Regions from separate parts of the Homo sapiens genome. Here region 1 is linked to region 2. The links come from fine-mapping of genetic effects on gene expression. A gene starts in region 2. The other region holds a variant in brackets. All regions are shown on one strand. Distances are from middle to middle.

What was found. PIP is the estimated chance that this variant, and not a neighbour inherited with it, causes the effect.
Region 1: its variant is fine-mapped to the expression of VMA22 in whole blood (TOPMed, PIP above 0.99).

What each region holds. Positions count from the first base shown.
Region 1 is chr2:130,361,830-130,366,225 of GRCh38, forward strand. All of the region lies in intron 5 of PTPN18 (protein tyrosine phosphatase non-receptor type 18), which reads left to right. Among named protein-coding and RNA genes, the nearest start is that of PTPN18, 8.0 kb to the left of the region's middle. The variant G/C (reference allele first, on the strand shown) is at 2,022.
Region 2 is chr2:130,339,638-130,344,033 of GRCh38, forward strand. VMA22 (vacuolar ATPase assembly factor VMA22) reads right to left here and starts at 2,527. Exons shown (of 5, transcript NM_032357.4): 1 at 2,378-2,527; 2 at 2,204-2,307; 3 at 2,030-2,112; 4 at 1,271-1,402. The coding sequence starts at 2,488. IMP4 (IMP U3 small nucleolar ribonucleoprotein 4) reads left to right here and starts at 3,260. Exons shown (of 9, transcript NM_033416.3): 1 at 3,260-3,298; 2 at 3,449-3,557. The coding sequence starts at 3,296. RefSeq lists enhancers at 2,443-2,992, 3,123-3,292.

The sequences.
Region 1 (4,396 bases), 22 kb after region 2:
CACCCGCCTCAGCCTCCCAAAGTCCTGAGATTACAGGCATGAGCCACCGCCCTCGGCCTTAAATTTCTTTAGAGTTTGCATATGTCTTTTCCCATTCTTTTACTTTGTATCTATGTTCATCTTTATTTTTTAGTGTGTTTCTTGTAGGTGGTGTATTGTAGGGACTTTTTTTTTTTAAGACAGAGGGGAATGGAGTGGTGCAATCATAGTTCACTGTAACCTCAAAATCCTGGGCTCAAATGATCATGCTAGCGCAGCCTCCCTGAGGAGTTGGGACTACAGGCATACACCACCGTGCCTGATTAATTGTTTTTTATTTCTTGTAGAGATTAAGTCTCACGTATAATCCAGGCTGGTCTCGAACTCCTGGCCTCAAGCTGTCCTTCCACCTCGGCCTCCCAAAGTGCTAAGATTACAGGCATGAGCCACTGCATCTAGCCAGGACTTACTTTTAAATCTAATCTGACAGTCTCTGCCTTTAATTGGAATATTCAGCCTTTAATGTAATTATCAATAATGTTGGGTTTAAACCTACCATCTTGCTATTTGTTTTCTATTTGCTCTGTTTGTTCTTTTCTTCTTTTTTTCTCTTTCAGAGTGAGAATTTTTTATTAATCTATTGCATAGTAATTATTCCCTTATTAGCTATACATCTTTATTTTAAATATTTAGTTGTGGCTTTAGGGTTTACAATATATATCTTTAACTTATAGTCTATAGTCAAATAATATTCTACATTTCATGTAAAATGTCAGAACTTTACTGTAGTATATTTCGATTACCCCTTTCCATGCTTTGTGCTATTGTTACTATATATTATAGTTCTATATATAAAATATACTCCACAGTACACTGCTATTATAGTTGTTTTAGAATATCTTTTTAAACAGCTTTATTGATATACAATTCAGTCATTTAAAGTGTACAGTTCCATCATTTTTCTATATTCCTGAGCTATGCAACTATTACCACAGTAAGATTTTTGTTTTTGTTTTTGTTTTTGTTTTTGAGACGGAGCCTCGCTCTGTCCTCCAGGCTGGAGTGCAATGGCGCGATCTCAGCTCGCTGCAACCTCCGCCTCCCGGGTCCACGCCATTCTCCTGCCTCAGCCTCCCGAGTAGCTAGGACTACAGGCGCCTGCCACCACGCCCGGCTAATTTTTTGTATTTTTAGTAGAGACGGGGTTTCACCGTGTTAGCCAGGATGGTCTCAATCTCCTGACCTCGTGATCCGCCCACCTCAGCCTCCCAAAGTGCTGGGATTACAGGCATGAGCCACCGTGCCCGGCCTACCACAATAAGTTTTTGAACATTTTCATCATTCCATAAAAAAATCCAGGCCAGACATGGTGGCTCATGCCTGTAATCCCAGCACTTTGGGAGGCTGAGACTGGTGGATCACGAGGTCAGGAGATCAAGACCATCCTGGCCAACATAGTGAAACCCCGTCTCTACTAAAAATACAAACATTAGCTGGGCATGGTGGCATGTGCCTGTAATCCCAGCAACTCGGGAGGCTGAGGCAGAAGAATAGCTTGAACCAGGGAGTTGGAGGTTGCAGTGAGCTGAGATTGTGCCACTACACTGCAGCCTGGCCACAGAGCAAGACTGTCTCTCAAAAAAAAAGAAAAAGAAAAGAAATCCTATATCCATTAGCAGTCACTCCCCATTTCCCAGCAACCTCTACAGCCCCAGACAATCCCTAATCTATTTTTGCCTTTATACATTTGCTTACTTTGGACATTTCATATAATTGAATCACATAATATGTAGCCTTTTTTTGCTTAGCATTTTTGTTTTGTTTTGTTTTGTTTGCTGAATACTATTCCATTGAATGGATCTACCACATTTTACTTATTGGTTGACAGAAATTGGGTTCTTTCTACTTTTTGGCTATTATGAACAGTGCTGCTATCAACACTGATATACAAGTCTCTGTGTAGATGTGGGTTTTCATGTCTCTTGGGTATTGCTGGGAATTGCTGGGCTATATGGAAACTCTATTTTTAACATTTTGAGGAA[G/C]TGCCAAACTGTTTTCCACAGTGGCAGCATCATTTTACATTTCCACGGCAATGTTTGAGGGTCCCCATTTCTTCTCCCTGATGCTTGTTACTGTCTTTTTTTTTTTTTTAATTATAGCCATCCTAGGGGTTGTGAAGTGGTATGCCATTGTGTCTTTCTTTAAATTATGTGGTAAAATATACATAACATAAAATTTGCCAGTTTATAGGTGCTGTGAGGAATGTTAAAAATAATTTTGCCATTTAAACCATTTCAAGTGTACAATTCAATTGAATTAAGTACATTCACAATGGATTAACCATTCCTACTGTCTATTTTCAGAACATGTTCATCATCCCAAACAGAAATTCTGTATTCATTAAACAATAACTCCCCATTCCCCCATTTCCAGGTAACCTCTATTCTCCTTTCTGTCCCTATGAATTTGCCTATTCTAGGTACCTCATGCAAGTGGAATCAGGAATACACTAATATACAATACTTGTCCTTTTTTCAAGGTTCATCCATGTTGCAGTGTGTATCAGAATTTCACTGTTTTCAAGGCCAAATAATATTTCATTGTATGTATATATCACATTTTGTTTATCCATTCGCCTGTTGGACATCTGGGTTGTTTGTACCTTTTGACTATTGTAAATAAGGCGGCTACAAACATTGGTATACAGGCTGGACACAGTGGCTCACGCCTGTAATCCCAGCACTTTGGGAGGCCGAAGCAGGCAGATCACGAGGTCAGGAGATCGAGACCAGCCTGGCTAACACGATGAAATCCCACCTCTACTAAAAATACAAAAAATTAGCCAGGCGTGGTGGCAGCCGCCTGTAGTCCCAGCTACTCGGGAGGCTGAGGCAAGAGAATGGTGTGAACCCATGAGGCGGAGCTTGCAGTGAGCCGAGATCGCACCACCGCACTCCAGCCTGGGCGACAGAGCGAGACTCCGTCTCAAAACAACAACAACAACAACAACAAAAAATTGGTATACTAGTATCTGTTTGAATCCCTGTTTTCAGTTCCCTGGGTATACACCTAGCATGGAATTGCTGGATCATATGATAACGCTATGTTCAACATTTTGTTTTCCACAGTGGCTGTACCATTTTACGTTCCCATCAGCAGAGAGAGAGAGAGGGAGGGAGGGACATGTGTAGTTTAATGACAGGGATATGGTCTGCATTGTTAAGACTATCTTGTCATTGTGTAAACATCATAGAGTATACTTACACAAACATAGATAGTATATACATTTTTTATTTATATATTTTTCATATGGAAAACCAAATGTCCCAGCACCATTACTGAGTATCAATCATTTCCCCAACTTAATATGCAGTGTCAATATCAAGTGCCATGTATCAGGTTTCTACATATGCTCCATTATAATCTATGGCACCACCATTGTATATGTGGTCTGTTGTTAACCAAAACATCATTATGTGGCATATGACAATGACATATATGCCATCCTAATGAGTGGGAAGTGGTACCTCATTGTGGTTTTGGTTTTCATGTGCTTATTCGTCCATTTGTATATCTTCTCTGGCCAAATGTCTATTCATGTCATTTATTCATTTTAAAATTGGGCTATTTGGGGTTGTCTTTTTATTATTGAGTTGTAAGCGTTATTCTGTATATAAGTCCCTTATCAGTACATGATTTAAAATGTCTTTCCCATTCTGTGGGTTGTCATTCCACTTTCTTGATGGTGTGTTTTGAAGCACAAACATTTTGTGAAACTTTAATTCCAATCTATTGTGTTGCTGTGCTTTTGGTGTATCTGAGAAGTCATTGTCTAATCAGAGGTCATAAAGACTTACTCCTGTTCTTCCTTCTAAGTGTTTTATAGTTTTCTTGCTTACAGTTAGGTCTCAGATTTACTTTGAATGAACTTTTGTATGTGATGTGAGATAGGGGTCCACATTCACTCTTTTGCATGTGACTATCCAGTTGTTCCAGCACCATTTGTTGAAAAGACTATGCTTTGCCCATTGAACCGTCTTGGCCCCTTTGTTGAAAATTAATTGGCCATAAATATAAGGGTTTATTTCTGAACTCTCAATTTTATTAAGCTGATTGATGTGTTTATCCTTGTGCCAGTGTAACATAGTTTTGATTATTATACCTTTGTAGAAGTTCTGAAATCAGGAAGTATGAGTCTTCCAAATTTGTTCTTTTTTCCAAGATTGTTTTGGCTATTTTGGGTAGGTCCCCTGCTGTGCAGAAGAGTTAAACATGGCAAGCATAAATGTTTATGCTTAGAAAGGCCTTCCTGTAAGGTTGACTCTTGGGTGGCCTCTAGAAACCTAGGTTTCTGATAACAGTGGCTCACTATGCCTGAACTGTTAATACAAACAATATGCTTTATGCAGAACACCTG
Region 2 (4,396 bases):
TGGAACAGCTGCTGCCCAGTCCTCCGGGCAGCTCTCGTCTTCGGCCTCCTGTTCAGCAGCAGGGCTGACCACACATTGGATCACTCGCTCCAGGAAACACTTTCTCTTCTTGGCCTCCAGGACACCTGCCCCCAGGTGTTGCTCCTCAGTTTCCTTGACTGGCTTCTCCCCTCTTCTCCCTCACCTCCCGTCCATACTCCCCAGGCCCTCTGCTGATCTCATCCTATCTCAGCTTTAAACCAGTGTTTGTGTCAAAAACTTTGGAATTTAAACACCAGTGCTATGCAGTGGACTCCCAAATCTCTCTCCAGCCCAGGCCTCTCCCAAACTCCAGATACATGTGCCCAAGTGCCCACTCAGACTCTCCAGCAGGGCGTCGGTGGATACCACACAGACCACACCAACTCCTGCCTTCTGGAATCCTCTCAGCTGCCCACAGCAGGTGAGGGTCGCTCCATCCTCCCAGGGGTTCTGGGTGGAGACCGCAGGCTCTCCTGGACTCCTTTCCTTCCCTTACTCCCATATCTTATCTGTCAGCAAATTCTGGGGCTTCTATTCTTAAAACCTGTGCAGGTTCCCACCACTTACCTCCTCCTCCAGTGACGCTATCTGCTTCTCACACTGGCTGCTCCCTGACACCTACTTCCTCCCTCTGCTCTGTGTCCCCGCCCAGCACCCAAGCATTCCTGTGACCCTGTACAGCCAGTTGCACCATCCTCTGCTCAGAGCCTCTCTGTGGGTCCCACAGTCTTCATCAGGGCTTACATCACCTGACTCCACTCTAGGCCACCGGCCTCGGCACATACCAGATATATCTGGCTTCAGGGCTTTTGTCCTGGCTGGTTCCTCCATCTAGAGCACTGTTCCCCAAAATCACCCACAAAGCTTTTCCTTCACCTCCTCAGAGAGACCTCCCCTGGCCCACTCCTGTCCCACTCCATTATGTGTTTTTCATAACAATTTTCACAGCCTGACTTATGTTAAGGGCCTACTTATTTGCACGTTGCCTTTGTCTGCTTCTAAACATTACATGAAAAGTGTTTGTCTCTTTTGTTCCCTGCTGTATCCCCAGCAGCTAGCATGAACCCGAATGCTGCCAACAACCAGTAAATGCTTTTGGAAAAAATAATGGGTGTACAACGGAAGTTTGGATGGAGGAAAACCTGCAAAGCCTTTCACAGACTAACCCCAGCCATGGCAGCAGTGCTCAAGTGTTCCCTGTGGATAGAGGGTCTGAGGGCCACAGAGCCAAACAACACGGTCCACTCACCATCCCGGAAGCTTGCTTGAGCCTGACGTAGACTGTGAGGAACTAGGATTCCAAACCAGTTCAGGGGGTCCTGAGGGGCCTCAGAGGACTCCGGTTCTGGGGTCTTAGTGGGGCCCTTGCGCCTCCGCAGACCTGAGGAAAGAAAGGTTGGAGGAGGCTGGGATCTTACTCCCTGACCTTTATCATCTTGGTGACAATGTTGAGCTTGATCTGAGCTCATGATTCTATAAAACACTGTTGGTTGGAAAATTCCAACTTTGGGGTTCCAGGAAACAGCTTACCACAAAACACAGCCTTTCCCCTTGTGATTCAGATGAGACTGTTTGTCCACTCTTTCCCGTGACTCCTGTAAGACCCACTGATGACCCTGTTTGCCTGTGACACTGATCTTACCCATTGTACCTGAACATGCCAACAGACCAGACATAGACGTTCCAACTCCCCATTCTTTGTCTCAGGATGATTAACTGGGATTAGAAGTTTGTCCCTCTGAAACTAGCTAGACACACAGATAAATATTTTCTGTTCAGCTGACTGAAATGTATGTGATTGTAAATCTATTCCCAGTGTAAAGCAACTCACCAACAATTTCTCTACTTCCTATAAAAGTCTAAGGCAAAACCACCCTACAAAAACATTCTGTTCTTCTGCTCTGGGATGCTCTCTCTTATCGCAAAAACCTAATTTAAATCATCTCCATAATTTGCATTTTGTCTTTGACACTGGGAAGGGGTTCTGCAGAAGGAAGAGGGGGCTCACCTGCTTCGCGAGGCCCCACCTCCTCTGGGGCGTGGACACCAGCTCTCACCACCTTGAACTTCTGGAGTCCCTCCTGGGCCTCGCTGAAGGACGAGAAGGGAGGATGGAGCTTTGGCAGCCCGGGCCTAGAACGCGCCCGCCCGCCCACCCAGCCCAGCATGGAAGCTTCCTCACCTGGCGTGGAGGCAGACCTGGGGCTCCATGTGGGAAGCATACTGCAGGGGCCCTACCGACTTGGCGCCCATCGCGTAGCGAGCCTTGGCGAGCGAGAGCCAGCCCTGCAGGGAGAGGAAAGCGGTGAGACTCAGTTTACGCCCGTGTACCCTCCTGCCCGCCCCAGGCGCCTACCTCCTCCACCCGGGCGTTCAACACCGTTCGTTTCCCCTCCAGCTCCTCCAGGTCCCCAAGCAGCTGCAGGACCAGCGAATCCAGCTCCGCTCGCAGGTCAAGCGCCGCCATGGACACACCTCCAGATCTGGAGCCACCTTCTTCCTTGTCACCCTCCGCAGTTTGGCAGGACAGCCAATAGGCACACGAGATCCTCCATCAAGGGGCGTTCCCATCTGGGGATCCCCACGCCGGCAGCACCAAGGCCTCTGGGTCAGCTTCTTTAAGGGCAAGCGCCCTTAGAGAAGCAGCACGGAAGCAACCAATCAACTGGTTTCTCCAATTAGCCCCCAAGTGGATCAGCCTGCTGAACTGTCGGCTAGGGTTATAGGTGGTTCTGAGTCCTTCCGGAAGCTGCCGAATCTTAGAAGTCGCGCCACTGTTGTGGCGATGGAAGAAGGCGAAGCTCTACAGAAACCATTTTGGTTGAGGGAAGAGTGGTTTTAAAGTTAATTTGGAAAGGAGCCGGCAAGCAACCTTCAGTCGGTGTGCGGTTTTTACAGTTGAACTGTTTCCAGCCGCTAATTATGATTGTTTTAGCGGTTCGTCATCTGAAAACTGCATTCTGCACGGCGGTGGTGGGGGGAGGACGAGGATGGAGAAGCCTGGGCGGACATATTTATTAGCTGCGGTCCTAAGTCACGTGTGACATTCTGTATCCAGTCTATCGGTTATCCCAAGGAGAACGCCCTGCCGGAATGGCCAATCGCCTTGAGATGTCCCCGCCCTATTCGCCATCTTAACATAGGGCATTCCCCACAGCTGCAGGCACCAGTGAAGCGTCTAAGGGACCATCTTGGTTGAGGGCGGAAGTGAGGACTGTGTCGCGCTGGAGGAGCCCACAGATTCTCCCGGACCCACGTGGAAGCGGCACTCAAGATGGTAGGAGAATGAGCTCCTGTTTCGGAGGTCCGGGGCGCGTGAAGTGCTGGGGATGTGGCTCTGGGGACTTGGAGGCTCAGCGGCTCCGGGGCTCCGGGGTTCCGGGGCTCGGGAGCGAGTAGTGAGTGACTGGGCCTGCTGTTCCCACAGCTGCGCCGCGAGGCCCGCCTGCGCCGCGAGTACCTGTACCGCAAGGCCCGGGAGGAGGCGCAGCGCTCAGCCCAGGAGAGGAAGGAGCGGCTGCGGCGCGCGCTGGAAGGTAAGGCATCGGCCCCGCGGGCGTCTGCGTGGTAAACCACCCCGGCACGCATTTGTGTTCGAATATCCGAGCGTCTTTCCAAATGCTTGCCGGCCGTTTTCCTTGCCCATTGGGTTCTCCTGTTGGTTTTGAGAGTGTTTCTTCCGTGTGATGGTATTAATTACTTGTCACTGACGTTGCAGTACCCGGGTTTTGCAGCTTGCCCGCTGTGTGCAGTGTGTCAAGTTCGTCCCAAGTTTTAAAGACTTTATCTTGTCCTGTAGAAATTCTCTTTAGAGCGGTGGCTCACTGCTGTAATCCCAGCACTTTGGGAGGCCGAGGCGGGCGGATCATGAGGTCAGGAGTTCGAGCCTGACCAACATGGTGAAATCTCGTCTCTACTAAACATACAAAAATTAGCCGGCCGTGGTGGCACGCGCCTGTAATCCCAGCTACTCAGGAGGCTGAGGCAGGAGAATCGCTTGAACCCGGGAGGCGGAGGTTGCAGTGAGCCGAGATCCTGCCACTGCACTCCAGCCTGGGCAAAAAAGCAAGACTCCGTCTCAAAAAAAAAAAAAAAAAGAAATTCTCTCTAAAGACTATCTGGATAGCGCTGGTGCTGCAGACTGCGCTGCCCATCCTCCCTGCAGGAGTTCCTCTGAGCTCCGTGGGGAACAGTGCTGGCCCCGAGTGCGCACCTGGAGCGCTGTGCTCTGCGGTAGGCAGCCTGTGGTCCAGGGCCCGCTGAAGCCATGCCTTCGAAGCGCTGTGGGCATCGTGACCAACGGTTTTGCTGTCTGAGAGCTTAAAGGTCTCTGGTCCACCATCATACGTACAGAACAGTCTATATTTCTTTTCAA